Linked DNA regions of Homo sapiens. The protein of the gene in region 3 purifies or fractionates together with the protein of the main gene of each other region. This does not show direct contact. Each region holds a gene or a part of one and is shown on either strand. Other genes may lie near its edges.

Region 1 (7,885 bases), on a different chromosome or scaffold from region 3:
GTCTTTAATCCATTTTGAGTTAGTTTTTCCATATGATATAAGGGGTCAATTTTTTCATTTTCTTGCATGTAGAGCTCTAGCTTTCTCACCATCATTAGTTAAAGAGACTGTCCTTTCCCCATTGAATGGTCTTCATAATTTTTTTAAAAATCATTTGATCAGGTATGTGAAGATTTACTTCTAGGCTCTCCATTCTATTCCATTGGGCTGTCTGCCTTTATGTCAGTACCACACTTTTTTGATTACTATAGCTTGTGGTAAGCTTTAAAATCTGGACGAGTAAGACCTCCTCCTTTTTTAAGATTGGTTTTGGCTATTTAGGGCCTCTTGAGAATCCACATTGGTTTCTGAATAATTTTTTTTTCTAATTCTGCAAAAAAGAAATCCCATGGAGATTCCATTAAACCTTTAAATTGTTTTCAGTAGTATTGACATATTCAAAATATTAAGTCCTTCAGTCCATGAACACAAGATGTCTATTTATTTGTGTCTTTCTTTCAGCAACATTTTTTAGTTTTCAACCTATGAGTCTTTTGCTTCCTTATTTACTCCTAAGTATTTTATTCTTTTTGATATTATTGTAAATGGAATTATTTTCTTAATTTCTGTTTCAGAGTGCTCATTGTTAGTATATAGAAACTATTGATTTTTGCATATTGATTTTGAATCTTGCTACTCTGTTTATCTTGTTTATTAGTTTTAACAGTTTTTTGTGGCATATTTAGGATTTTCTACATATATTATCATGTTGTCTCTAGACAGAGATAGTTTTTTCTTTCCAATTTGGATGCTATTTATTTATTTACCTACATTCATTTATTTATTTATTAGACGGAGTCTCACTCTGTCACCCAGGCTGGAGTGCAGTGGTGCGATCTCGGCTCACTGCAACCTCCGCCTCCCGGGTTCAAGCGATTCTCTTGCCTCAGCCTCCCAAGTAGCTGGGACTACAGGTGCGTGCCACCATGCCCGGCTAATTTTTGTATTTTCAGTAGAAATGGGGTTTCGCCATGTTGGCCAGGCTGGTCTTGAACTCCTGACCTCAGGTAATCCACCTGCCTCAGCCTCCCAAAGTGCTGGGATTACAGGCATGAGCCGCTGTGCCCGGCCTATTTATGTATTTATTTATTTATTTTTCTAATTGCTTTGGCTAGGACTTCCAGTATTATATAAAATAAAAGCGGCAAAAGTGAGGATCCTTGACTTGTTCTTGATCTTAGAGGGAAAGCTTTCAATCTTTCACCATTGAATGTAATGTTAACTGTGGGCTTTTCCTGCATGGCCTGTATTATGTTGAGGTGGTTTTCTTGTATTTATAGTTTGTTGAGTGCTTTCTTCATTAAAGAGTGTTGAATTTTGTCAAATGCTTTTTCTGCATCAATTGAGATTATCGTCTCCTTTTACCATTTCTTGAAGAGAATAGTGAAATAACTCCCATTACCATAATCATACTAGTCTTTGTGCTGTGATGTTATGCACAAAATGGTGCTTCATAAAGCATTTGATAATTGTACGACAGTCTTATGTGTGGGAAGATAAGTAAAATTTAGTCATGTAAAAGTCATTATGCAGTTATTGATTTGGCAAAAAAAAAAAAAAAAAGAAAAAAAAGAAAAAAGTCACTAGTCCAATAAAAAGGCATTTGCTTTGAAACTTTTCTTGAACCTCAAACTAGCTAGTAAAACTTGACAAAGTGGAGCCGTGTGTGGTGGCTCAGGCCTGTAAGTCCAGTACTCTGGGAGGCCAAAGTGGGAGGATCCCTCAAGCCCAGGATCAGCCTGGGCAACATAGAGAGACCCTGCCTCTACAGGCGTGGTGGTACGTGCCTGTGGAAAAAAGTGCCAGTTTTTCCAAGGGGTTGTATGAACTTGCACTCTTAGCAGCAGTGTATGAGAGTTCAAGTTGCTCTTTGCTAGCATTTGGTATTATCTATCTTTTTCATTTAAACTATTCTAGTGATTACAATAACACTCTGTTGTGGTTTTAATATGAAATTCCCTTCTAGTCAGGGAAGTTAAACACACATATTGCAAAATTTATTGGCTGTTCAGGAATCACCTTTTGCGAAGTGTCTATTCCAGGTTTTTCTAATTTTTTTTTTGTAAGATTGTCTGCTTCTTCTTCAGTGTTATAATAAAAGTTCTCTATAAATTCTACATGTGAGTCCTTTGTCAGATATATGTATTACAGTTCTCTTTTGCCTTTCTGTGGCTTTCTTGTTCACTCTCTAATGGTATCTTTTTTTTTTTTTTTTTAATTTGAGATGGAGTCTCACTCTGTCACCCAGGCTTGAGTGCAGTGGCGTGATCTTGGTTCACGGCAACCTCCACCTCCTGGATTCAAACAACTCTCCTGCCTCAGCCTCCTGAGTAGCTGGGATGACAGGTGCATGCCACCATGCCTGGCTAATTTTTGTATTTTTAGCAGAGACAGGGTTTCACCATGTTGGCCGGGCTGGTCACGAACTCCTGACCTCAACTGATTCTCCCATGTTGGCCTCCTAAAGCGTTGGGATTACAGGTGTGAGCCACTGTGCCTGGTCTCTAATGGTATCTTTTGATGAATAGATATTCTTAGCATTGATGAAGGCCAATTTCTCATTTTTGTTTTTCTTTTAGTGTATTCTGTAACCTAAGGATCTTGAATTAATCCAAAGCCATTAAGATATAATTTTCTTCTAAAAGCTTCATTATTTACCTTTTATATTTAGATTGCAGTCCATCTGGAATCAATTTTGTGAATGGTGTGAGACTGGGGTCAATATACATTATTTTCCCCTTATGACTTCTCAAATGACCCAGCACTATTTGTGAAGACCATCCTTTCCCTACTGTATCTTTTTTTTTTTGTTTGTTTTTTTTGAGACCAAGTTTTGCTCTGTCGCCCAGGGTGGAGTGCCTTGGCACAATCTCGGCTCACTGCAACCTCCGCCTCCTCCATTCAAACGATTCTCCCGCGTCGGCCTCCTGAGTAGCTGGGACTACAGGCCGAGTGCCACCATGCCCGGCTAATTTTTGTATTTTTCGTACAGGCAGGGAGTTTCGCCATGTTGGCCAGGCTGGTCTCAAACTCCTGATCTCAAGTGATCCGTAGGACTCGGCCTCCCAAAGTGCTGGGATTACAGGCCTGAGCCACCATGCCCAGCCTATCTTCGCCAGTTTTAATGCTAAAAACTATTCCATTCTATGGCACTCCCTTAACTTAACTTAGCCATTTTTCCATCTGGGTATTTGGGTTGTTTTCAGATCTCTGCTATCATCAAACAGGAGGAATACTTTGTATGGACATCAAGTCATTCTTCTGCAATTATTAACCCAGAAGTGAAATTTCTAAGCTAGAAAATATTTGCTTTTTTGGAAAATTAATAAATTATATTCAAAACTCAAATAATGTAAAGAGACCCAGTGAAAAGTCTGCCTCCTATTCTGTCCCCCTGTCCTCCCAGTCCCTCTTCCACCAGGTAACCACACTCAGGAAATCTTGTGTATCTTTCCAGATATCTTGTAATGGATGTACAAGCATTATTTATATTCTTTTCTCCTTTTGTTTACACAGCCAGTGGTACTCTATGCATTCTGTCCTGCATCTTGCCTTTTTCATTTAACAACCTATTTTAGAAATCTTCCCATTGCTGTACATAAAAAGATTTAATACCTCATTTGAAGGAGGCACCACAATGATGGACATCTGTGTTGTTTCCAATAGTTTGCCGTTGAAACAACGTTGCAATGGAATAACTTTGTACATGTCATTTCACATGTGTAAAAGGTGTCTATTGGGGAAATTGCTAGAAGTGGCTTTGCTGAGTCTGAGGGTCTGTGCATTTGTGATTTGATCAACATCGTCAAATTATACTGCCACCAGCAATGTATGAAAGTGCTTGTTTTCCCGTAGCTTGGTCAATGAACTATTAGACCTGAGATCTTTAGCCATCCAATATGTGAAAAACTGTAACTTTAGTTTGCATTTGTTTATTGTATGTGAAGTTGAGCATCCTTTCAGAAGTTTAAGGCCTACTCTGTCCTGTCTGGGTCAGAGTATGCCCTTTTATTTTATTTTTAGTTTTAGTTTTTGAGACAGAGTCTCGCTCTGTCACCCAGGCTGGAGTACGGTGGCGCAATCTCGGCTCACTGTAACCTCTGCCTCCCGGGTTCAAGCGATTCTTCTGCCTCAGCCTCCTGAGTAGCTGGGATTACAGGAGCACGCCACCACGCCCGGCTAATTTTTTTTGTATTTTCAATAGAGACGGGGTTTCACCATGTTGGTCAGGCTGGTCTCGAACTCCTGACCTGATGATCCGCCCGCCTCAGCCTCCCAAAGCGCTGGGATTACAGGCGTGAGCCACCGTGCCCGGCCCTCAGAGTATGCCCTTTTAAAAATCTGTGGGTACACGTAGCCAACTGACATTTTAAGACAAGAGGACCCACAGACCCTCTTTCCACAACGCAGCCCGGGACCTGTCTGTCTGCATCAATAGTGCCTGGCTTTCGGAGCTAGAAAACAGCACCTGCGCGTGGTCGAAGCCTGAACCTCTACTTACAGGTGCGGAGCTTCCGGCTTGCCAGGGGAAGGAGCCCGCCCCTCCCGGCTGCGTGCACCAGCGCAGCTAGTCACGTGACGCCGGGGGCGGGGGCAGATAGGAGGTGCCTGCTGTCATCGTTCCGTGGGCCCTGCTGCGGGCACGCTCTCGGCGCATGCGTTTTTTATGCGGGATTAAGCTTGCTGCTGCGTGACAGCGGAGGGCTAGGAAAAGGCGCAGTGGGGCCCGGAGCTGTCACCCCTGACTCGACGCAGCTTCCGTTCTCCTGGTGACGTCGCCTACAGGAACCGCCCCAGTGGTCAGCTGCCGCGCTGTTGCTAGGCAACAGCGTGCGAGCTCAGATCAGCGTGGGGTGGAGGAGAAGTGGAGTTTGGAAGTTCAGGGGCACAGGGGCACAGGCCCACGACTGCAGCGGGATGGACCAGTACTGCATCCTGGGCCGCATCGGGGAGGGCGCCCACGGCATCGTCTTCAAGGCCAAGCACGTGGAGGTGAGGCTGGACCGCGGCCGGCAGCCTGGCGGGGGTGTGCCCCCGCCACCCTCCGGCTAACGCTCTAAACTGTTTCGGTTCCCTTTTTACATCCAGTACAGTTTTTAAAACCTACTCATATTCTAAACCTACTTTGGGCCGTTGCGCTTCCCTCCGCACAGCTGGCTTGGTCCCCTACCCCAGCGGCTGGGTCCCAGGCTAGTCCTAGACCCCCGAGGAGGGCCTCTGGCCGAGCCGGGGGCGCGTGTCTCTCTCTCAACCACCTTCCCCTCACCCACCTTCATCTCTCTTTCCCAGCCGAGGGTGGGCTGGCAGTGTCTGCCTTCTATCCTGCAGACTGGCGAGATAGTTGCCCTCAAGAAGGTGGCCCTAAGGCGGTTGGAGGACGGCTTCCCTAACCAGGCCCTGCGGGAGATTAAGGCTCTGCAGGAGATGGAGGACAATCAGTATGTGAGTAGGGGAGGGGGGGCATGGTATTCTCACCCTCAGTCGCTCGTTCCCACTTCTTTGTGCCTTCATTTTCCCAGCTACGCCTTCACCAGCTTTCAGGGATTTCCTCCCGCTGTCACTCACACACACTGCTCATTCATCTGCCTCCTTACCCCCTTTTGCCCTTTTTTGTCCACTTGTTCACCTTTATTTACCTATTTCTTTCATTTCTCACACATTCACTCTCATTTGCCTACTTATTTCTTAATGTATTCATTCATTCACCGACTTTTTTTCTCAAAACATGTAGTGATTTATAATGTAACTAGCACCTATTGAGCTCCCGATGTGTTCTGCAGGCATTATATACATTGTCATTTTGAGACCTCTTTACTACTGTACAAGGCAGGTTTCCAGATCTCTGTTTCTCAGGTGAGAGGAGGAGGTTATGTCACCAGCTCTTGGGCCCTCCGTTAGTCAGTAGAGGGTTTGGCCCAGGTTTGATTGAGAGTCCATTCTTCCCTTGGGACCTCCCATAGGCTCTACCCTGTGTTGGGCACTGGTGACACAGAGAAACCAGCTCCAGCCCAGCTCCTGAGGACTTAAGTGTGCTAACAAGAGACAGAGGCAACAGGGCCCACCTAGTGTGGTTCGTGCTGTGATAGGGTACCGGGAGGGGCTGCTGGAACACGAAGAGGGGCATCTTTCACCCCTAGTGTCATTACTCTTTTGGTGCTCTCTCTCACCCATGTCGAAATAGGGAATGTATTTGACTCCCTGGAGAGTTAACAGGGTTGGGTCTCTGTGATCTGGAGATATGCATGATATATTGGATGACAAAAGCATGTTATAAAATTTTGTGTCATCTGGGTTTTGTTTGGAAATATTATATATGTGAATGTGTATTTGTGTGTGCCATATCTGTTGTAAAGTCTGGTAGAATACACTCTAAGATTGACTGTAGGATTTTTCTTTTGTTCTTTTTCTGTTGGATTTTATGTCTTACCTGAATGTGTGCATGTGTTTTGATCTGTTAAATGGTTGTGTACTACCTGAAAAATCCGAAAACAGCAATCAGGCCATTTTGATTTTTTGAGGAAGATAAAAGGGCTTCCAGACAGCCATGTGTGGGATAGGTGGAGAGATCCATAAGGAAGCTGGTGATATGGTCCCTACATCCAGTTGGTCAGCAATTCTGAAGGTTCTAACTTTAAAACATACTCTAGATTTGCTCCTTGCCCAAGTCATCATCACCACTCATCAGAATGACAGTGGCAGCCTCCCCACTGCTCTCCATAGCCACAGTCCGGAGGGCTTTGTCAAAAGTGTAAGTTAAGTCATCGGCTCCCCTGCGTAAAAAGCCCTGGTGGCTTCTCTTCACACTTAGAGCACTATCACCATGTGCCCACCTCCAGCTGGCCTCTCCCTTTTCTCTCATTCAACACAACTTCTTAGGCATCTCTCCAGTGACCAGCACCTATCTAGGGTCCAGGAGCACAGAACAAGGCAGACACATCCTTCCCTTAAACAATCTCATGTACTCACATCCCTCTAGCCTCCTTCTGTGCTGGCGTTAGGGCCTTGCACTTGCTTTTCTTCCTGCTCAGAGCTTTATCCCAGATCCCCACAAACTGGGTCCTCATCTAGCCCCACCCCACCTAAATAAAGAAGTATCCTTTTCTCCACTCACAGAATCACACTATCCTCTTCTAGTTCTGTTGATTTTTTTTCTTTTTTTGATACAGGGTCTCACTCTGTCACCCAGGCTGGAGTGTAGAAGTGCGATTTTGTCTCCCTGTAGTCTCAACCTCCTGGGCTCAGGTGATCCTCCCACCTCAGCTTCCCAAGTAGCTAGGACTACAGGCACGTGTCACCATGCCTGGCTAGTTTTTTGTATTTTTTGTAGAGACAAGGTTTCACCATGTTGCCCAGGCTGGTCTCAAACACCTGGGTTCAAGCCATCCGCCCACCTTGGCCTCTCAAAGTACTGGGATTACGGGCATGAGACGTCATGCCCAGCCCCCTTGTATTTTGGTTCCTGTACTTACAGAATCTGAATATATCCCTTTTATTCATTTATTTGTTAAACTGTTTGTCCTTTGTGCTGTGAGTTCATTAAGAGTCCTGTCTCTCAGCTCACTCTCTGTGTAGCCTGGCTCCTCTGACAGTACTGGCCTCAGTGTTTGTGATGTGTCTGTAGCTGTCCCAGCACTGGGAAAGGTGGGATTCCTGGTGTCCTTTCCTTGGTGCTGGGATTCGGTGGTTCTAGAGGAAACAGGAGGAGACCTGTCCATCTCATGTGTGACCATCCAGATGATTTTCAGGCGGGTAGGCTGGGTGGGCGGACCAGATGGTGCCACTAAATGACCTTTTTTAGACCTTTTAGTGTTCATGGAGAATTAGAGTGGGGGCACACCTTATCTCA
Region 2 (7,021 bases), on a different chromosome or scaffold from region 3:
CCACCCCACAGCTAACTTTGTATTTTCTGTAGAGACGGGGTTTCGCCATGTTGCCCAGGCAGGTCTCAAACTCCTGGGCTCAAGCGATCCACCCCACCCAGCCTCCCAAAAAGTGCTAGGATTACAGGCATGAGCCACTATGCCCCGCCCAATTGTTTAATTTCGCTTCCCTCTTTTACTTGGCCTAAAATACCAAAATTTGACAAGTTATCATAATCAGTCTCTTAAAAATGCAAATGTCTTTCAGAGAATTAATGAAGACATCAGTCATTCATATGTAAGTGTGAAGTAGTATAGTGGCTACTTTTATGTATTGCTGACCTTATATGAAATAAAGTGAGTGAGTCTATAATTTCCTTTACCATAAGAACACTTTGCTAAAAATACTAGCTTTCAAAATATAGTGCCTTACTCCAACTTCTATTTCTCTCAACAAATCTTCTTTGATATTTCTTCTTTACTATGATAGAAGTCTGGAAAGACTCCTACTTTTCATTTGTTAAATTTTATTCACTTCTAATTCCCTTTAAAGCTTGTTTTTTTCTTTTTTCAAAAAGTTATGACCAATTATGTGGGAAGAAACAATAACTAGTAACATACATACCAAAGTTGTCCATCTCAATATATAACAAGGGAATAAAAAATAGTTACATGCTCTTCCTCTTCCCCATCCCCTTTCCTACTAAGTGTTAGAATCTCATAAAGCCACATGTTCTTATATACAGTATGTTAATATACTATGAATGGAAGATAGAAAAATCAATGCTTGGATATAAAAAAGAATTATTGTATCTAAACCCAAGTAGAGTTGGCAAATCAGCAAAGGCTAAACTGATTCAAGTCAGTTGGTTACACTACAGTAACACAGACACCAATATCAAAGGTTAAACCCACACAGTGGCCAGTTAATTTCACACTAAAGAAAAACTTCTGGTCGGGTGAGGTGGCTCACGCCTGTAATCCCAGCATTTTGGGAGGCTTAGGCGGGCAGATCACTTTACATCATGAGTTTGAGATCAGCTTGGCCAACGTGGGGAAACCCCGTCTCTACTGAAAATACAAAAATCAGCCAGGCATGGTGGTGTGCACCTATAATCCCAGCTACTCAGGAGGCTGAGGCAGGAGAATCACTTGAACTCAGGAGGCAGAGGTTGCAGTGAGCCAAGATCACACCATTGCACTCCAGCCTGGGTGACAGAGTGAGACTGTGTCTTAAACCAAAAAAAAAAAAAAAAAAAAGGAAAAGAAAAAAGAAAAATTTCCAACAAAGATTTTGCCACAATTCAACTCAACCATCTGGAAAAGGAGTGTTGTTCACTAGGAAAAAAGAGTAAAAATGAGATTATCACTATTATCAGAAAAATAACTAAAAGTACATATTCTTACTCCATTTCTAGCCTTCAAATAATCTCTAAGTATGAGAAAATACAAAAGCTCTCTTCACACAAAAAAAAGGATGAATGACACCTCTTCTCTCATGAGATGTGAAAATATTCCTTAATGTTTTTTAAGGTTTAGTCACCACATGGAAGAAAACAATTTTCTCCCCTTTTTGAACATAGCCCCATGATCTTCATTTGTTAAAAAGAACAAAACATTTAACAACGGGGTTTTTAGAAACTGGGAGAGCAAGCAATTAACATACTGAACTCACACTTGCTTTAACATGCTATCTTATTCGGGGTGTTTAAAAAACGTTTTAAATGCAATTAATGCATTCATTTTCAAAGGAAAATAAACATTTTTGATATTTGCCTTCAACTGAAATAAATCATGTAAAGGAAGTTAGTTGGTTTCATTTCTCTATTTTCTAAGGATTAAGTTTAAGCACATTTTTTATGCTAACCAAACATATATAAAAACTCCAAGCTACACATATAAGAAACACACCAAACCATGGTGAGAAAAGAATATTTAGTCCACAAACCAGTCAAAATTACCACTGAAATCTAAAACTAATTTAACGCACATTTTTCTCCTTCTGAAATAGTCCAGCCTACAACCATGAGCTAAAATCAGTTAATACCCTTTATTCATAACTTATGAGTAATTCAGGGGAAATCTACCCTTCTTTGTATAATGAGTGCTTAATGATCTCATCAACACACTGGAAAAACATGCTGGTCAATCAGTAGAGTCTCATCTTGAGACAAATCTACATGAGAGGTAAAATTATAATCAGAAGATTACTTGAAAAATGTGAAACCAGATAAGTCAACAATCAATAGCATCAGACTAGTGCAGCCATCTCCAATAGGACAGATGGTATAGAACAGGGGACAGATCTGCTTCAAGGGGCAGGTTATTGCATCCCCTGAAAGTTATACAAACATTCTGCCAAATGTATTTTGGTATCTTTCCTTGTTTATAGAAAGATTAGGTGATATAAATCAATTTTGAAATTTTTTTGCTACTTACTATGCATCTTCATTGTTGTATAGCTGAGCCTCTACTTCTTCATTTATTAAAAAAAAAAAGTAATAAAATCTCTTACAGAATTGGTATAAGGGGGCCAGGCACGGTGGCTCATGCCTGTAATCCCAGCACTTTGGGAGGCCGAGGCGGGCGGATCACGAGGTCAGGAGATCGAGACCATCCTGGCTAACATGGTGAAACCCGGTCTCTACTAAAAATACAAAAAATTAGCCGGGCGTGGTGGTGGGCACCTGTAGTCCCAGCTACTCAGGAGGCTGAGGCAGGAGAATGGTGTGAACCCGGGAGGCGGAGCTTGCGGTGAGCCGAAATCGCGCCACTGTACTCCAGCCTGGGCGACAGAGCAAGACTCCGTCTCAAAAAAAAAAAAAAAAAAAAGAATTGGTATAAGCTTCAACAAATCAGTTTCTCTGAGGTTGTAACAAGTCATACAGATTGAATTTTATCTCTTGGGTTTAATTTTATATACAGCTGATACAATCCCTTACTTTTTATATTTAAAAGACCTATCATTTATTAAATATCTATCATGTGCTAGGAACTTTACTATCTCTCATCCTTACAAATGTTCTATAAGGCAGGTGTGATTCCCACTTGAAAGATCACAAAGTAAGGCTCAGAGAGGTAACATTGCTCACCAAATGTTAAATAACTAATCAGATGTGTAGTCAGGATTAGAACCCATATCTAGCTAGCTTTAACTCTGAGCTCTTTACATCATACTGTCTCATTCCTTATAGTGTATCTTCATAATTTTATTTTCACAGGGTAGCAACTACAATTTGGGGAATACTTTGCCAACAAAGTCACATACTATAATTCTGTGGAAGATAAGAATATATTTCAAAGGTCTGATAAATCAGTGAATTGGAAGGTCTAAAACAGAGTAATACTTCAAAGATAAGTGGGACAAGACAGAAACAAAATAAGAGTAACTTTAATATCAGGGATAAATAGGGGGACAATAAAAGACCTCATGTTGAAATAGCTCATTACTGTAAACTGGTTATTTTCAAAGTTAAAACAAACGGTGGGGGGCGGGGGGACTTGAGAAAATACTCAAACTAGGGGTTCTCACTAACAGATCAGGAACTACTTGTGGTTCCTGCCTTACCTAGTAGGTCTCCAAGCTGGTTGGCCTTCTCTTGGGTTTGTCAGAATTTCCAGTAAAGGGAGAAAAGCAGGATAAGAGCTCTTAGGCCTTATCAGCAGAGCTCTTAGGCCTCATCAGCACAACTTTAACACTAATAGCAACACTACTCTGTTTCTATCCCTCAAGTAAGTTCCAAGCTTTAAGAAAATAGGCTCTTTTTACAGCTCCCATACTTCCTGCCTCCAAAAGGTTGAGTGGCACTGTCTCCTCTCATGGGATACATTTGGAAGGGTTAGCCACCAGATGACAGAGTAGTACCCCACAGTACTTACTTCCTAAAACAGGAAAAATCATGTTTCTTGTGCAGAACTCCTCTATTAAGACTGCACAGGATCCATGAAGTTAAAATATCACATGCTAGAACAATGCCACAGAAAGTATAACTAGCATTCCTGACTAGAACAGCAAGGAGTGTCTCCTGGCTGCTGCATATTATAAATATACAGCTCATTCCTCATCAGTACAGTGTCGAGAAAAAAGTATATACACGTATATATACACACGTATACACACATATATACGTATATACACACGTATACACACGTATATACACACGTATACACACACGTACGTATATACACACGTATACACACACGTACGTATATACACACGTATACACACACGTATACACACACGTGTATATATATACACGTATACACACACGTGTATATATATACACGTATACACACACGTGTATATATATACACGTATACACACACGTGTATATATATACACGTATACACACACGTGTATATATATACACGTATACACACACGTGTATATATATACACGTATACACACACACGTGTATATATATACACGTATATATACACACATATATATGTATATATATACACGTATTTATGGAATTGCAGGGTTTTTAAAAATTGAAATCATTCAGTACGTATAATATTACATAAAATATTGCCGGTGGGGAGATATATATATTTATGTATATATATACACACGTGTGTACATATATACACATATATATGTATATATATACACACGTGTGTACATATATATACATATATATGTATATATGTACACACGTGTGTACATGTATATATATACACACGTGTGTACATATATACATATATATGTATATATATGTGGGTACATATATATGTGTGTCATAGATAAGATTTTTATCCCACAAATATGGGATTAGAGAGACTAGGTTTTTATTCTACAAGATTAGCTCAGAGTAGAAATGAATAGCAAAATCTATTAATGCATTCATTAAATTTCTTGAACTATAAATATCACAATTAGATTTTCAGCACTTCAAAACAGTCCTGTGACTTTTCCAATAACTAGAAAAAAAATACATCTATTTTCAAAAACTCCCATGTCAAGATTATTTCCAGAACCCAAATTCATCTTTTATTAAAAGGTAATAAATGAGAAACTAATAACAGTTATTAGATTCCAGGTAGAAGAATTTAGTAGCTGGAGGCTGATGTACGAAGGGGACTTCTGAATTTTAAACTGTGGCAATATTACCTATTCAAAGTAATTAATTTTATTTTATTTATTATTTATTTTTTGAGATGGAGTCTCATTCTGTCACCCAGGCTGGAGTGCAGTGGTGCAATCTCAGTTCAAAGTAATTAATTTTAACAACTAAAATCTACTGATGAGAACACACAGCACTTCTGTAGACTTGTAAGCTTTCCTCATACTTTGTAATATCTAAAAAAATTACAAAATACATTCCTGCAGTAAAGACAATAAATTCATCAGAACGGGCTGCAAAAGCTAACTCCTTCTAGAATTTTAAAACAAAACAAATATCAAAAATCCAATCCCACACTACTGTTTCATTAAATCATGGACTATATTACCGAATTGTCACTGCGTAAAATACAGTTTTTATTTTTGAGACCGAGTCTTGCACTGTGTCACCTGGGCTGGAGTGCAATGGTGTGATCTCAGCTCACTACAACCTCAGCCTCCCGCGTTCAAGCGATTCTCCTGCCTCAGCCTCCAGAGTAGCTGGGATTACAGGCGTGAGCCGCCATGCCTGGCTCATTTTTGTATTTCTAGTTAAGACGAGGTTTCACTACGTTGGCCAGGCTGGTCTTGAACTCCTGACCTCGTGGTCCACCTGCCTCGACCTCCCAAAGTGCTGGGATTACAGGCGTGAGCCATTGCTCTGGGCCTGTAAAATACAATTCTACTAGTACATGAAATCCCAATCTCAGGAATTTAAGAAATTAAAAAAGCTAATGATTAGGCTAGTATTTAGTCTTAGGATAGCTGATCATTTCAGCTAACGAGTGAACACAATAGTCCATGAAATACCCAGACCAATATTTCCTTACGTGGGGTGTAAGAAATGCTCCCCCATGGAAAGCTTTGAAAAATCCTCAAAGATTTTAATCTATAGGGTCTAGTTTCTTTCTTCTTCAAACACTGGCCATTACAGATAAGACAAAGCGTATATACACACACACATAATGTATGTACAAACATGTATATACACAAATATACCCACATACACACACACATACACATACACACGTGTGTATGTAAATATATTTAAAAGTGGTGTCAAGGAAGTTTTTATACCAATTAACCTGTGGGCAATGAAGCAGCTAAAGACCATTCTGACAGACTTTTTGCCTGAAAACATATTATACTGTAACTATTTTATTACCACTAAAGAACCTGAAATGCATCTTTATATAAAACAAATGATTTTATATACAGTCTGAACTAGTTTGTCTCAAAACAGCGAGTCTCACTTTGATTCCCTATCTGGAAAGTTGTCTGATCCACTATTAAGTAACTCTATCCAAGATCCTAATGCAAATGTTACATATCCATTAAGAGTTAGTAAAAGGTTAAAAAAAAAAAAACAAAAACCACACATACATTCTTAGCTTTAGTTCTTTAATTATCCTGTAATAATTAAACCCAGCATATTCCTAAACTAGCAACAACAAAATCCCTTTCTTTCCAAACTAGAAAGTGACACTTTGCGTGCTCCATAAAACTTTCGAAATAGAGTATTCTTAGTTAACTTCTGATCATTATATGAATCGGACATTTAAAAAAACGTAATTAAAATGTCAATTTTTCAAAGAATAACATATTTTTCCATATGGCTGGCAACATCTTTATTATTTTAGTTAACGAATTCATCTTAATGTTTTATTCATTTTAAGGCCATTTATGTGCCCTCTTTAAGACTCACACTATTTTCCCTAAAGTTCTTTTCCTCTCTGCTCTGTGCCAACACAGAATCTCCAAAACAGTTTGTACTAGCTGCAGAGAAGCAACAATTCTACAGTAAATTTCATTTACCATTTGGTTGGGTACATACTGAAATTTGGATTCATGAATATTGACAGTTTATAGACATCAATGAGAAGAAAATTGACACTGGCATGTGACTGCCAACAACCAAGTCACCTTACCTCACATAGA
Region 3 (7,520 bases):
AGGGGGGGACAGACACACTGGTCTGCCCAGGCGGCTGCAGCTCTGGGACACCAGCCACAGGGCACTGGGAGCCCGGAGTGCTGTCGGAGGCTTTTGTTCCCTGTTGCCGGGATATCTGCCTGCTCAGTCATCCGAGCTCTGAGCCGCAGGGTGGCTCTCGGTGCCACCCCCGTCGCCTGCCCTCCCTCCCTCACCCTGCCGCTGACAGCCTCTGGCCAAAGCCCTCGGCTCCCCCAGGGCCTGGACCACCGTCTCCCTTTGCCTGGGCCTGGCTGGCCCTCTCTGTGAGTGAGTGGGTCCAGGGAGGGGGCTGGGCAGCCGAGAGTGGAGAGGAAGGGGGAGAGAGAGAGAGAGCGCGCAGGGATGAGAGGTGGGGGATCTGATGACTTTCCTTGTTTGTTGAGCCGGCTGCTGGCCTGGGCCTTCACCCCCCACGGCCCCCTCCCCCCACTCCAGGCTCAGTTGATTATTACCCAGCCAAGAGCTAAGAGCATAGCACTCATTCCTGGGGCCCGTTTCTCGAAGCGCAGCTGCACAGGCTTAGGGTAGGGTGGGGCTGAGGGTCTCTGCTTTTTCGGTGCAGCTGCAAATGACCCTGCTCTAGGGTCAGGGGCATTGGAAATGGCTTGGGACTGCGGTCCTGTGGCCTGCCCGCTTTGGGTGCTTCAGGGAAGAGTCTGGGCGTCCTTGGGGGGCCCCTGACTCCAACTAGCCCTTGATGGTGATGGCTGAAGACTCTTAGGGCACTGCCTACCCAGCCTCAAATCCACCATCCTCCTGCCTTGTCCATTCTTAGGTGCTTAATCTTGTCCAAAGCCTGCTGGGGGACAGGGGTCCTGGGCTGGGACGGCAGGGCAGGTGGGTGGATAATGCCCGGCAGCAAGGCTGGGATGTTTACATGGTGGCCTGGGCCCCTTGGCTGCTCAGTGCCTGGTTCCAGAGACGTGGAACACGAAGTGAGTGTGGTAGGCAGAGCCCCAGTGGAAGGCACCTGGCTCAGGTAATTGTCCCCCCAGGGAGGTTGGCTGACAGCGGGGGTTGGAGGCAGGAAACTGAGCAGAGGTTGAGGTGGGGGGCTGGGACAGCAGCTTTAGGAAGGCCCCTTACCCCCTCCACCCTCCATTGGGACACACCTGGCCCTCACATGCTAAGGCACCCCTTCCATTCCACCCTCCCCAAGCCAACTGCAAAAGGGCAGGACGTAGAGCCTGGCAGGGAGGCCACGTTCCAGTTTCCGTTTCTGACTCCCGGCCCCGACAAACCATCCCGGGGCAGGGCAGTGTCTAGGAATTCTAGGACTTGGGACAAGAATGCGCCTTCAGTTCATCGCTCTCCCCAAGGAGATTCTGTCCACGCAGAGTCTAGCCCTGGTCTTTGGCCTGGGCCTGCTGGATGAATGGCAGGTTATTTCCCCTTGAATCTCAGCCTCTGCACCCCTAAAGCCCTCCACCTCTGGACATTCTCCCTTCTCTCTCTCTCTCTCTCTGGAAGTCAAAGGAGGGGCAGTTGCAAGAACTGGGCTCCTTTGCAGGGCTCCCTTCTGGGGCGCTGGCCGCACCGCAGAGCCTACTTGGCCTGCAGATTTGGGATATGAATCCAGTGCAGCGTGGGGAGCGAGGAGGGAATGGGGAGGGAGCGGCCGCCGCCCGTGCCTCCTCTACCTGCCAGGTGGGATCTGCGTGGCGGAAGTAGCAGAAGTTGTCCGTGATCCACTTGTAGATGGCCGACAGGGTGATCTTGGTGGCCTTGCTGGCCTGCATGGCCATGCAGATGAGCGTGGCATACGAGTAGGGAGGCTTCACGTGCGGATTGGTGGCGTAGTCCACGTCGTCGGGGGGTGGGGCCTGCAGCCCCGGGGGCGCGCTCCGCGACGTGCACGACGACGTGGGCTTGCCCGGCGTGTGTGGCTGCCCCAGGCAGGCGGGGTCGGCCGCCAGGGGGGACCCGGGCGCCGCTGAACCTGGCACCTGGTGGTAGCCGTGGGGGTCGGTGCCCCCCGGGGGCAGGGCGGGGGCCTTGGCGTTGAGAATGGAGAATTCCTGCAGCCACTGCAGGCTGGTCAGGCTGTCATCCAGGGCGTCGGGCTCCTCCAGGCCGCCCTCCGGCCCGGCCTCCTCCGCCGGCCCGGCTCCCGAGAGGCGCAGCCAGCTCTCCGCCATGTCTGCGGGGACTCTCCGAGGGGGCGGTCAGCATCCACGGGCTGAGCCGGGGGTGGCCCGCCGCGCTCTCTGGCCCGCTGAGTCCCGCAGCTCCCGTTACACGGCCTCCCGGACGCGCGCTTCCATCTCGCGACCCCGGGGGCGCCTCCTCCGAATAAGTATGTGGTGCCTGCGAGGACCACGGTGGGAGCTGAGCACTACCCCACCCCCGAGGGGACAGTGTGTGTACGGGGACGCCCTCTCTAACATCATCCCCGCAGCTGGGGAGGATCTTTTAGTGCCGAGGTATGGGAAACAGAAGCAAGGCCCTGGGGTCCCACCCCCATCAGATCTGCCTCCCTCTTCCTTTCCTCTTCGAGGTTTTATTAGCCAAATGAAGAGGGTAGGGGCATCCGAGGCTATCCTTTTCTCCCGAAGAGCAGGAAATCAGGACCCCCTTCCTCCTCGCAACAAATGGAAGTGGGGCGAGAAGTTTGGGAGGGCGGTACGACGGGGCGGGGGCGGTGGAGGTCCTCTGATCCTTGAAAAGGAATATTATGATAGGGGATCATTGGGAAGGAAGGGGACGGAACAGTAACGGGGGGCAGGAGGCGAGTTTCCCCCAGACTTCTCCGATGTCAGTCCCTGGGCCCACCACTTCCGTTAAGGACGAATGAGAGAGCGGGTTGGTACCGTTGCCCACCCTTCCCCCTGGCCTGCAGCCCTCCCCATCCCTTACCTGGCTCAGAGCGCAGCCCGGGCCAGAGGAAGGTTCTGGAAGAAGTTGCTCCCACCCCCTGCGGCTCTCTGCCCCCAGCTCGGGGGCCCTGCCAGCGCCTCTTGCCGCCCCCCCGCCCGACGGCGCTTCTCTGAGCTACCGCGGCCCCGGGACCGGCATTAAGTAGCCGCTCCAAAGGCTTCTCCTGCTGCCATGGCGACGCTCCGCCCCCATAAACAGCTTCCGCCTCTGCCATTGGCCAGCACGTCTCCAAGGAGACCGCGGGCACTTGCCACTCTCCCTGGCGGCAACTCTCTTCGAACTCCCTCCTTCTGCCGCCCTCTCCCGCGCCACCCAACCCCCTACCCGCCGCTAAGTCCCGGCTCGGCTCATTCCCGCCCGAGGGCCCCGCGCTGGGGTCGGAGAAGCGCGCGGCCTGCGGCACCGGGAACCGCTATGGATCCGTTCGTTCTGGGGAACCAAGACTCTCGCCCCCACCCCCTTCCTGTCCCGTACGCTTTGAGGCGTCGACTGCTCCTGGGACGGAGCCTGGGGTTGGGGGGCTAAGGCTGGGAGCGGGCTCAGGCTCGGGAACCGTATCCTTGAGGTTTTCTTTCCTCTCCGCTACGAGTGGCACTTTCTCATGTTTCTGCAGCCTTTCCCTCTCCCCCGACTCTTAGGGTCTTTCTCTGGTGTCCCAGGCAGGTCTGACTTTCCGATGCCACCTGCCGCTTACATCCACAGAGGCGGCAGACACACCAAGGGGGTAGGGTAATCCAGTGTGTCCCAGTAAGCAGCTCCTTCCCCACCCGTATCCTCGAGGTTCCAGGAAGCTGACATTCCAGAGGCTTCTGCAGAAGCGCACTCACTCCTCTGGAGACAGCTGATGAAGCAGAGCCCGTGGGTAAAACTCTGAAGTCATGGACTTGTCAAATTCTCCTAGCGGGGTCATTTGCCCAATTAATTTCACCAACCTTTAAGTCACAGGGATTAAGAGTAGAGGGACTCTGGGGACTGTGTCCCTTCCTCCTCCCTTCCCCTGGCCTCCCTCCTGTCACCAGCTTTCCTGCTCTTTAATTATTGAGGAGCTGCAGGGTTGGACGTTCTCCGGTTTAAGGCGGCTGCAGAGGCAGTGGTGGGGGCTGGGTTGATTACCCCGCCTCTGCCCAGGAGCTGGAGAGCCGGGGTCGGGGAGGCTGGTGCCCAGACCATGAAGAAGGCCCGGCTATGGCGCATCACTCCCCCGCCAACATGCCTTTCCCTAGCCCTTGCCTCTCCCACTCCTCCAACTCCAGATCCTCTTGAGTAAAAGTATTAAAGAGTGCTGGCGAAAGTCAGACAGAAACTTTCACAGATAAGCTCACTTTGCAGTTAGCTCTCCTTCCCTTGTAAACAGTTTTATTCATTTTTAAGAATCATGCAGCAATCCATAAATATTGCATTCTTGATGTCCCCACTGTAGTGTGACCACAAGTGTACTCCAGGGAGAGGGGTACACAGATGGCACAAGCAGTATACACATGCACACACCAGGTGTGCAGACCAAAGCAAAGTGAGCGACCAGCGTGCTAAACTCCAGGTGGGCAGGACCCCAACTCCCAGGTGAGGTGGGCAGGACCCTAACTCCCAGGCCAGCCGGCTTAGAGTGTGGTGGTCTGTGCCCAGGAGATGCCTCAGCGGGGGTAGAAACTCTGGTGGGATGGAGCTGGGCAGAAGGAAAAAAGGGCTCTGTGAGGAAGCCGGGATCACACCACCTGAAGGCAATAGGGAGAGCACAGGCCTAGTGCAGCAGGAAGGAGCCCTGGGTCTCCATAGTTAGGCTGTGCCCTGTGGGAGAAGCCAGGCCCCACCTCTTCTCTTTGGGTGAACTGTTGACGTGACTATGTGACTGTCTCCAGATGAAGGACTGGGGCAAAAGGGTTGGCCACTGACCTGTCCTCATCAGGCTGACTGAGGACCAGCTCCTTGGATGGAGTATTTCTGTGGGCCAGAGAGCTAAATGACAGCCAAGAGAAGGCAGGGGGAGGGAGGAAGAGGAGAAATAGTAACTGAGAAACAAGTAAAGGACATTTCTAACCTAGGTATGCCTTGGACATGGGACTGAGGCCTTGAGGAATCTTTCCGTGCTTCTCCCTAGGAGAGGACTAAGCACCTGCTGCGAGGAAGGACAGGGATCCTCAGGAAGGGGGTCCTGGCCACTGTGGCTACTGTTTACCTGAATCTCCTTCATCTCAGCTCCTTCCTCCCTCCTCCCAGGTAACACCACACTGTGAATACTACCTGCAGGGGACAGGACAGGAGGTGGTCTGTGTGCCACCACCCCAGGGTAAGGGAAGCTCCCTGTCACCTGCTGCTTCTGGGCTCATATTTCAGGGAAATCAGGAAGTGGGGTTATTGCTCAGCTTATGCATCTTAACTATGAAAGGGGCGGGAAGAATGTAGGGGGAAGGAAGGAAAGAACATTAGGTGGGGCCTGAAATGGTAAAGTCTACTGCAGTTTTTCAGAGAGGGTTGGACGACAGGCCCCCCTCTCCATCAGGGCAGGATGTGAGCCACAACCACTAGGCAGTGAGACAGTCACTGCACTCCTGGCCTCTGCAGCCACACAGAAACGAAGGACCCCCTGGGCACCAGGCTCTTTTTGAGGCTGCCTTGGAAACAGCCTTGAATTTTTTTTTTTTTGTTTGAGACAGAGTTTCGATCTTTTCAATCTTGTAGCCCAGGCTGGAGTGCAGTGGCACGATCTTGGCTCACCGCAACCTCCACCTCCTGAGTTCAAGCGATTCTCCTGCCTCAGCCTCCCGAGTAGCTGGGGAGGGCCCTTGAAGTGAAGGCCCTGAGCCCTGATTCCAACCTCTGCTCCCAGCACACTGCTGCTGGCCACATGCTGCTGCCTGAACTTAGCTCAAGGCTCTCCATCACTTCCTTTGGGGACCTGGGCACCAAACTGAGAATCACTGGTCCACATTTCTCTCAACCATTAACAAAAGGGGGTAGAGATGGGGGCAACAGGGACAAGAATGCCACCTCCCAATTGAGTGAGGATGAATTATGGTAATATACGACCACTCCTCACCCAGTGCTTGGCACACAGAGGTGGTCAACACATGTGTTTCTTGAAATGTCACCTTAGGATGGAGTTGCAGGCCTCCCTGAATGCACCTGATCAGGAGAAATGCTCCTTAAGGGAAATCATCTTAACTGGGGGATTCTCAGATTCAAGGGCTCCTTCTTTTTTTTTTTTTTTCTCTGTCGCCCAGGCTGGAGTGCATTGGCGCGATCTCGGCTCACTGCAAGCTCCGCCTCCCGGGTTCAGGCCATTCTCCTGCCTCAGCCTCCCAAGTAGCTGGGACTACAGGCGCCTGCAACCATGCCCAGCTAATTTTTTGTATTTTTAGTAGAGACGGGGTTTCGCCGTGTTAGCCAGGATGGTCTCGATCTCCTGATCTCATGATCCACCCGCCTCGGCCTCCCAAAGTGCTGGGATTACAGGCGTGAGCCACCGCGCCCGGCCAAGAGCTCCTTCTTAACCGCACAGGCATGTGAGGCCCAGAAGACTGGCTCTGCCACCAGAAGGAAGGATTGTTTCCTTCAACCAACCTTTTGGTTGCTACCATTTCTTGTCCTTGAGAAAGGTGCTCCTAGTGCTTGTAGAGGGAAACGCTACGTCCGTGCAGTATGGCTCTCCCTTTCCACAGGAGCGATCCTCCAGCCCTACCCCAAACTGCAGGTTTCCAATTGGTTATGATGTGCCAGAGACCAGGAAATGCCAGAGGGATGTTTGTAACAAAGCTGCCAAACTCTAAGCCTTCTTGTTCTACCCCCTAAGGAGAAAAAAGATGTGTAAGAAATTAGCCCATGGACCCCAGCTCCACCTGAACATCAATATACCGTGAGGACATTCCAGAGTCCCTGCAAAAGGTCTCGTGAGCTGCAGTTCATTGAGTGGCTTTAGGTCACACGGAGAAAGGAGGGTTCCAGTTCCCTCTGAGAGGTGAGGGATTGTGGTTACAGGTTGTAACAGCTGTCACAGGAGGGTAAAAAGTCTCCAGCATCTTGCTGAGGATGCCCAGTAGGCAGCAGCTGAGTGAGGATGGATGGAATGCAGGGCAGGAGGGGAGCCCAAGTGCAGAGGCTGGGGCTCAGACAGCCAAAGGGCCCCACACACAGGGCCTCGTCTCAGAGTCCTCCAGGCTGCTGGATGACAAGCGCCGGCGCTGGGCATTCCGACTGACGGCATTGTCATCAGCCTGCCAGGCACCTGGGGAAGAGAAAATGAACATTACAGGAGCCAGACCTTTGGCCAAATCCAGATGGTGTCTCCAGCAGGGCAGCCCAGGAGCCGGCACGGAAGGAGCAGGATGCGTGTCACCTGAGACTCCGATGACGGTGCGAGCCACAGCACTCGTGTGTGAGAACGGAGAGAAGCAGGTGCTGACAGGTGCAGAGCCTGCTCCTGCCCCCTGGGCTAGGTACAGTCACTGCCACTGTGGCTCCCGGACAGGGAGGGACATGAAAGATGTTCCTTGTTTTGCGAACTTACCCTGGGATCCACTTTTGTATTTTAATTACTTGGTTTTAAAGTTTGCCTATATGTTACAATAGACAGGAAAAGGAAATTGGGCCTTGCTGAGCTATTTTCATTGGGGCAGGAAGAGGTGGGG

Evidence for each region.
Region 1: the proteins of FOXJ1 (region 3) and CDK20 purify together in Homo sapiens (affinity purification with mass spectrometry; 4 studies listed by BioGRID and IntAct, with this or other methods). This does not show direct contact.
Region 2: the proteins of FOXJ1 (region 3) and FBXO11 purify together in Homo sapiens (affinity purification with mass spectrometry; 4 studies listed by BioGRID and IntAct, with this or other methods). This does not show direct contact.

The regions. Positions count from the first base shown.
Region 1 is NC_000009.12:87,971,518-87,979,402, reverse strand, and holds the start of CDK20 (cyclin-dependent kinase 20), read left to right. Parts: upstream 1-4,869; 5' UTR 4,870-4,956; coding exon 4,957-5,031; intron 5,032-5,163; exon of another isoform or gene 5,164-5,233; intron 5,234-5,328; coding exon of another isoform or gene 5,329-5,367; coding exon 5,368-5,481; intron 5,482-7,885. UniProt on the Homo sapiens protein: Required for high-level Shh responses in the developing neural tube.
Region 2 is NC_000002.12:47,896,483-47,903,503, forward strand, and holds part of FBXO11 (F-box only protein 11), read right to left. Parts: intron 1-7,021. UniProt on the Homo sapiens protein: Substrate recognition component of a SCF (SKP1-CUL1-F-box protein) E3 ubiquitin-protein ligase complex which mediates the ubiquitination and subsequent proteasomal degradation of target proteins, such as DTL/CDT2, BCL6, SNAI1 and PRDM1/BLIMP1.
Region 3 is NC_000017.11:76,138,237-76,145,756, forward strand, and holds the start of FOXJ1 (forkhead box protein J1), read right to left. Parts: upstream 3,010-7,520; 5' UTR 2,878-3,009; exon of another isoform or gene 2,329-2,877; 5' UTR 2,160-2,328; coding exon 1,662-2,159; intron 1-1,661. Other genes in the region: E3 ubiquitin ligase RNF157, read right to left, coding at 6,999-7,117. UniProt on the Homo sapiens protein: Transcription factor specifically required for the formation of motile cilia. Acts by activating transcription of genes that mediate assembly of motile cilia, such as CFAP157.